Linked DNA regions of Homo sapiens. The protein of the gene in region 2 purifies or fractionates together with the protein of the main gene of each other region. This does not show direct contact. Each region holds a gene or a part of one and is shown on either strand. Other genes may lie near its edges.

Region 1 (4,178 bases), on a different chromosome or scaffold from region 2:
GCTAATTTTTGTATTTTTTGTAGAGACAGGGTCGACACCATGCCTGCCCAATTTTTGTATTTTTTGTAGAGACAGGGTTTTGCCATGTTGCCCAAGCTGGTCTCGAACTCCTGGGCTCAAGTGATCCTCTCGCCTTGACCTCCTAAAGTGCTGGGATTACAGGCATGAGCGATCAGACCTGGCCCAAAATGTTCTTTATTACACTAGCTGCTTATATTCTCACATGCAGTTAAATTTCACTATTGTACCTTGCTAGGGGTAAATGAGGCTCATGAAAGATTTATCTTCACAGAGCTAAAAAAGAATTACTGTGAGTCTCTTAATGCATACAAAGGAGAAGCTGTATATCTCATTGAGATGGTAAAGAAGTATCCTCTGGAACGAACTGAAACAGGAACTCTTCATGGATCCAAGGAATAAAGCAATATAGTTATCAGAAAAGAAGTAACATTTTGGAATGAAAATATATGTATACTGAGAATGTATATATTTGTTTATTTCCAATACCATGGCCCAAATTTCTATTTAACACCTAAATTCTCTGAATCAGACTGAATCAATCTCTCTCTCTCACACACACACACACGCACACACAATATACATACATACACACCTCTCACAAACAAAAATACATCCTCCTCATTTCTCTCCATGGGAATTTGTTAGCAATGACTTGTTTCCCCCAGTAGAAAACCAAGTGATACCTGCTATAATATTGCCTAGTGTCTTTTCAGATCAGGTAGTTTCAAGTAATGACACCATTTAGACTGATAAATTCAATTTAAAAAAAAAAAGAAGGAGAAAGAAAAGAACCATAGGCCACACAAGGTAGCTCACGCCTACAATCCCAGCACTTTGGGAGGCTAAGGCAGGCAAATTGCTTGAGCCCAGGAGTTTGAGACCAGCCTGGGCAACATAGAGAGAACCTGTCTCCACAAAAAAATACAAAAATTAGCTGGGCATTGTGCCGCACACCTGTAGTAGTCCTAGCTACCCAGGAGGCTGAGATGAGAGGATCACCTGAGCCCAGGAGGTCGAGCCTGCAGTGAGCTGTGGTCATGCCACTGCACTCTAGCCTGGGGAACAGACTGAGACCCTATCAAAAACAAAAAACAAACAAACAAAAAACTATAAATTCTAAACTACAAGGACTTTAACAACAACCAATTCTGCCATTTCTGCCTTAATAGGGCCACTCCCATCACTTGCCTGGACTATTGCATATTGTTTCTGGCCACTCCATTCATTTGTTCCTTAATTTACTCCTTCCACAGGCATTTAAATACACACCCTGCTGAGGTCTGGGGTACAAGAATCATTTAAGCATATTCCCTCCCCTTTGAATACTCATAGTTGAGATGAAAAGAGAGGTACACACAAATAACTACAGCCATGCAGTAAGCATTACAATTGCTATTTAAAAGTGCTATGGAAGCAGACAGGAAGAAGCCCCAAATTCGCCTGCAAAAGTCAGATCAGTGTCACAATCCTGCCTTGAGTAGCTTCCTAAAAAGTCACGATTATCCTTTAACACTTCCCATGGGACTGGTAGACCACAGGATAAATTCCAAACTTCTTAGGGTCGCAGAGAAAAACATCAAAAATTGGTCCCTCACTTCCTTCTCACTCATACATCACATTGCAACGTTCAGTTCCTATCCTTCCTGGCAGTTACTTCACCTCTCAGTGTCTTAATTTCCTTAAAACCCTTGTTTTACAGTCATATGAATTTACTACTTCATATGACTGTAGTGGAGGTTAAAGGACTCGGGGAGTGCGTGGCACATAGTACTTAAGGTCAGCAATCATCATTTAATGACTCTCACATGATCTGCCCTCCAGCCACATGGTATGTGTATTGGTAGGTCACGCATCCTGTCTCCCTGACTTCCCTCCACAAAACCTTCCCCAGAGTCAAGTCTTTTCCTCTCCAATGTTCTCATCAACTTCGCACATATCTATTCGATAATCTTATCAAAATACTATTATGGCTTGCAAGTTTGTTTGCCCCCACCGGAGCACGTAAATTCCTGCGGTGTATGTGTGCGCGAAAGCACGTATGTGTATTGCACATGAGGGGAGACGGTCAACCCTGGAGAATGAACCCTGTCCTCCTTACCACCAAGAAAAGAAAATTCTTCATGTTAGATGTTCAACAACTGTTTAGGAACAATATTAGCTAATATTTATTGAGCCCTTATTACGTGCCACACTGTTCCAAAGGCTTCGGATATTTTACCTCACTTTACAGATAAGGATACTGAGGTAACTAGTTGAGAAACTTGGGCAAAGTTAAACAGCTGACAATTGGTGTGAAGCTCGCATTCGAATCCAGGGACCGGACTCCAGATTCCACGCTCTCCAACACCACCTGAAGTGGGAGAGTCCCTCAACTTCCCCTAATGACAGGCTGCCCGAAGCGGGAAGGGGCTGGGGAGGAAGATGGGCAGCAACAGGCGGAAACATCACCCAGAATCCCCTAAAAAGAGCTTTTTCCAACAATGAGCAGCTTCCAAGCATTCCCCACCAAAAGAAGGCCCGAAGCTCCCCCAATTCACAGCGGGGTTCTTAGTGACGATCCCGAGTCTTAAGGGGGCGTGACCAGCACCCAAGAGAAAATCTCCGCTCCCCCAATATCGAAACCCACGAGCCTAGGGAAGGAGCAGGAAATAATGAGCGAACCCCACTTCCCCACAACGGCACCCCACATGAAACTTTCCAGTACCGGGTCTGCAGCATCCAACTTTCAAGTTTCCCCACCCTTTACACAGTTTCCCCGCGGAAAACGCCGCAAAGCAACAACCGAAGCACTGATTGAGTCGTCATTCTGGCTACTGTATCCAATCAGAGGCCGGCAGAGGCCCAGGTTGGCTCCGCGGCTTGCTGGGAATTGTAGTTAATACTATGATCAGCCTAACAGATCGAATCTGAAGCAGTTTCTCAATATAGTGATTATCAAAATCTGTTGCAGGACCATCACCAAAGAGAATGTGAAACAAGGGAACACCCTGTTTGGAAATTTTTCTTTTTTCTTTCTTTTTTTTTTTTTTTGAGACGGGGTCTCGCTCTGTCGCCCAGGCTGGAGTGCAGTGGCGCGATCTCGGCTCACTGCAAGCTCCGCCTCCTGGGTTCACGCCATTCTCCTGCCTCAACCTCCCTAGTAGCTGGGACTACAGGCTCCCACCACCACGCCCGGCTAATTTTTTTGTATTTTTAGTAGAGACGGGGTTTCACCGTGTTAGCCAGGATGGTCTCGATTTCCTGACCTCGTGATCCGCCCGCTTCGGCCTCCCAAAGCGCTGGGATTACAGGCGTGATCCACCGCTCTCGGCCCTGGAAATCTTTTTTTTCGTGTATCATCACTTTTCACAATGGCTTAAAGGGGCCAGACGCAGTGGCTCACGCCCGTAATTTCAGCACTTTGGGAGACCGAGGCGGGAGGATCACTTGAGCCTGGGAGTTCGAGACTAGCCTTGGCAACATAGTGAGACACCCTCCCCCACCCCTCCGCCTCTACAAAAAAATACAAAAAATAGGCTGGGCGCGGTGGCTCATGCCTGTAATCCCAGCACTTTTGAAACTGCCCGATGGGTTCACCTTACCAGCTGCCTAGACAGAACCGATTTATCAGGACAGGGGAATTGCAATGCAGAAAGAGTAATTCACGCAGAGCCAGCTGTGCGGAAGACTGAAGTTTTATTGTTACTTAAATCAGTTGTCCCGAGCATTTGCGGATCGGAGTTTTTACCAATAATTTGGCTGGTAGGGGCTTAGGAAGTGGGGAGTGCTGATTGGTCAGGTTGGAGATGGAATCATAAGGGGTCGAAGTGAGGTTTTCTTAATGTCTTCTGTTCCTGGGTGTGATGGCAAAACTGGTTGCGCCAAATTACTGGTCTGAGTGGTGTCAGCTGATCCATGGAGTGCAGGGTCTACAAAATATCTCAAGCACTGATCTTAGGGCTTGCAATAGTGATGTCACCCCCGGGAGCAATTTGGGGAGGTTCAGACTCTTGGAGCCAGAGGCTGCATGACCTCTAAACTGTAATTTCTAAACTTGTAGCTAATTTGTTAGTCCTGCAAAGGCAGACTGGTCCCCAGGCAAGAAGTGGGTCTTTTCGGAAAGGGCTGTTATCAATTTTGTTTCAGAGTCAAACCATGAACTGAATTCCTCCCCAAAG
Region 2 (3,965 bases):
ACTCCGATGAGTGTCGTACCTTGGATTCCCGGCCAATGCAACAAAATGGTATGGCTCTGATGACTGGAGGAACACTAGGGTCCTTGGTCTCCCACTGGTTTGAATAAAACAACATGGGCACACGTGGAGTGGTTTTAAGGAGTGGAGAATTTAATAGACAAGAAAGAAGGAAGGAAGAGGCTCCCCCTGTTCTGAGACTGAGGGAGGCGGGCTCCAAGCTGAAAGAGGGAACCTCGAGTACGGTGGAAAACAGCCAGTTATATGAGGAGGCTGGAGGAGGCGGTACCTGATTTGCATAGGGCCCAGGGGATTGGTTTGACCAGGTATGTCATTCAAGTAGCCCACGAAAAAACTAGCCTTCCTACCCTAGCCTTTTAATATGCAAATACAGGCGCCATGATGTTCTACACACATGGGTGTATGTAGGGGCGGCCATGTTGCCAGGAACGTGGGGAAAAGAAGAAGAGGCGGGAGTCTCCATGTTTGGGTGGACGCAGTTTCTAATGGCCTGTATTTGCATATCAAAGCTTGCCTGCCCAGCTCTAAGAGCCAGGGCTTTTCTTCTAGACAAGAAACATTTATGGAGCTGCTTTAAAAGAAAAAAAAATCTTCCCAAGCACCCCTTTTCCTATCTACCTAAAATAATTTCTTAATAACTCCTATAACAACAACAAACATTATGAGCCCAGTTAATAGATACAATAACTGAGGCACAGAGATGTTGATTGCATTGTCCACAGTCACGCAGCTTGTAGGTGGTGCTCGTGGGGTTAGAGCCAGGTCTGTCTGACCCAACAGTCTGCATGTTTATGCACTTGGCTATAACACCTGAACAAATGCATGTTCAGGTGTGCCCAGCATGACCCATCCGACATCTGAGTTGGGTGTTCACTGTGGTATAGAACAGCTCTGAAATTGACTCCCAGAGTGTTATACCCCTTGGACCCAAGGCCTGCTAGGCCAGACGCCCCCCACCCCACCCCTTCTGCAGACGTATCTCCCCCTACCCTAAAGACCCTGCACAGTCCCCTCCCTCCTCTTTTTTACATAGTGACGATGCTTAAGCCCTGTGGCGCAGCCCTGCCAAAAAATGACACCTCTTTCGTTTAATAATTAAAAGCAGGAACTACCCACTCTATAAAAGGAAGTGAATGAGTAAGAAAGTCAAAGGCGGTCTAGATGTGCAGAAGGTGCAAGCCAGAGCTCAGGCAGAACTTCCAGAGTGCATCTGGGATCTGCATTTGCCACTGGTTGCAGATCAGGCGGACGAGGAGCCGGGAAGGCAGAGCCATGTGGCTGCCCCCTGCTCTGCTCCTTCTCAGCCTCTCAGGTGAGTGGGGCTGGGGCCTTGGGCGCTTGGTATGACAGGGGCAGGGCAGGAGGCAGAGGGCATTTGTCCTTCCACATCCAGGGAAATGAGAGGTGGCTTTGTGAAGTCATTCGACAAAGGTGCACTGGGGACTGACATCGTGTGCTTCGGGGCCTGAGGACATCAAGAAAAAAGAGGAGGAGAACTGGCCATTAAAGAAGACTCCAGGCTTGAGGCCATGGCTCACACCTATAATCCTAACACTTTGGGAGGCCAAGGTGGGAGGATTGCTTGAGTCCAGGCGTTTAAGACCAGTTTGGGCAACATGGTGAGACCTCGTCTCTATATAAAATGAACAAAAATTAGCTGGGCGTGGTGACCGTGCCTGTAGTCCCAGCTACTTGGGAGGCTGAAGCTGGAGGATCCTTTGAGCTCAGGTATTCAATTCTGCAGAGTTATGATCGCACCACAGCACTCCAGCCTGGGTGATACAGTGGGACCTTGTCTCAAAAAAAAAATAAAGTAAAAAGACTCCAGATGGCTTAGTGGGTGAGACATACACATAAACAATGAGCAATTGCAGGACACAATAAGGCATTGGTGGAGGCGTGTGCGGAGGATGAAGCAGTTCTCTCTGGTGACTAGAGAAAGACTCACGAAGCTGTGCACTTGATGTGCCTTGTAGAAGGAAGGTCAGTCTCTGGAGCAGAGCTGAGAGGAGAACACTCTAGAGAGTTGGGTGTGTGTGTGTGTGTGTGTGTGTGTGTGTGTGTGTGTGTGTTGGGGGACCTGGGCAGAGAGATGGAGGCTTAGAAAGAATGGTGGATTCATGCAGAGGGAGCTGTCAGTGTGCAGGATGTCTTGGAGGTGGCGAGTTGGATATGAGGTTGGAAACACAAAAGACAAGATTATGAAGGCCATCCACGCCAGGCTCAGGAGCTGAGACTTTCAAAGAAAAAACTTCTCAAGAACCCAGGTGGAAAGTGGGAAGGGCTAGATGATCTTCTCCATGGCAAACCTTGGTGGACACCTAGAGGGCATTAGGGGACAATCTAGAATTTTACGCAGGGTGTGCAATGTGTGTGGGCCACACAGTTTTCTGCTGGTGCCTAGGGACTGACCATCTGGCACAGATAGAGCAGTCCACGGAGGGACAACAGGAAAGAGCATGGCTGGGGAGTTCTGAGACCCGACTCCAGTCCTGGCTGGACTTCCACCCTTCAGCCCGTTCAACGGGGCTCTGCTCCAAGCTGACGGCTGCCCTGTCATTTCCATCTCTATCGTTCCTCATACCAACTCTTGACAACATATAGAAGCCTGATTAATAGTTCCAGCCATCATATTCTGTGGTTAGAGAAACCCCCAAATATTTTTTTAAACGGGACTAATTACATCGTGAGCCATTTACAGTTTGAATGACTGAAGCTGGGATTGATGACACTTTGTTCAATGCAGCAGCATCTCTTTTCTGCTGTTAGTGATTGCTGACAAATCCAATTTATGTTTTTGGGTATTTTGTTTTTGTTTTTGTTTTTTGTTTTTGAGACGGAGTTTCACTCTGTCACCCAGGTTGGAGTGCAGTGGTGCAACCTTGGCTCACTGCAACCTCCGCCTCCCAGGTTCGAGTGATTCTTCTGCCTCAGTCTCCCAAGAAGCTGGGATTAAGGTGCCTGCCACCATGCCTGGCTAATTTTTGTAATTTTAGTAGAGACAGGATTTCACCATGTTGGTGAGGTTGGTCTTGAACTCCTGACCTCAGGTGATCCACCCACCTTGGCCTCCCAAAGTGCGGGAATACAGGCATGAGCCACCGTGCCCGGCCCCGAAAAGACTTTTAGATGCTCAGGGCAAGTGCAGCTGATGAGGAGGAGGAGACAGTCTCAGTACCCAACTCAGGCAGCAGTATGGAGAGGAAAGCTGAGGGAGCTGTCAGTGTGCAGGACATCTTGGGGGTGGCGAGTTGGATATGAGGTTGGAAACACAAAAGACAAGATTATGAAGGCCATAATCCTCAGGAGAGGAGAGTTGGGGAGGATGCTGCTGGGGCTGGGAAGACCTCTCCAGATGCCACTGCCATGATCCAGGCACAGATGAAGTTCTGACCTGTTGATGAGCTGTCACTGACAGAGCAAACCCCAAATGTCTGGCGTTGGACATACATCCAAGTCTTCTTTTAAATTTAAAAATAAATAATTTTTTGAAGACAGTGTCTCACTCTGTCACCCAGGCTGAAGTGCAGTGGTGGGCGATTATAACTCACTGCAGCCTTGAACTCTCAGGCTCAGGCGATCCTCCCACCTCAGCCCCCCAAGCAGTGGGGACCACAGGCATGCACCACCACTCCTGGCTAATCTTTTGCATTTGCAGACACAGGGTTTCACCATGTTGCCCAGGTTAGTCTGGAACTCCTGGGCTCAAGCGATCCTCCTGCCTCAGCCTCCCACAGCTTTGGAATTACAGGCATGAGCCACCTTGCCCAGCCTACACACATCCAAGTCCTATTACCACCTTCAAAGTAGAGCGTAGCATGACTGTCTTATGAATAAGGAAGCGATACTTGCAGAGGTTAAGCAACTCTGCCAGGGTTTCCCAACTAGTTCAGTGTCAAGTCTTTCTGCATCAAAGCTCACACTCTCTCTGATGTCATGCTGTCCTT

Evidence for each region. The genes of interacting proteins can lie anywhere in the genome.
Region 1: the proteins of CD300LB (region 2) and RAD51B purify together in Homo sapiens (affinity purification with mass spectrometry; one large-scale study listed by BioGRID and IntAct). This does not show direct contact.

Annotation. Positions count from the first base shown.
Region 1 is NC_000014.9:67,818,401-67,822,578, reverse strand, and holds the start of RAD51B (DNA repair protein RAD51 homolog 2), read right to left. Parts: upstream 2,801-4,178; 5' UTR 2,726-2,800; intron 1-2,725. UniProt on the Homo sapiens protein: Involved in the homologous recombination repair (HRR) pathway of double-stranded DNA breaks arising during DNA replication or induced by DNA-damaging agents. May promote the assembly of presynaptic RAD51 nucleoprotein filaments.
Region 2 is NC_000017.11:74,528,676-74,532,640, reverse strand, and holds the start of CD300LB (CMRF35-like molecule 7 precursor), read left to right. Parts: upstream 1-1,165; 5' UTR 1,166-1,179; coding exon of another isoform or gene 1,180-1,290; coding exon 1,291-1,330; intron 1,331-3,965. UniProt on the Homo sapiens protein: Acts as an activating immune receptor through its interaction with ITAM-bearing adapter TYROBP, and also independently by recruitment of GRB2.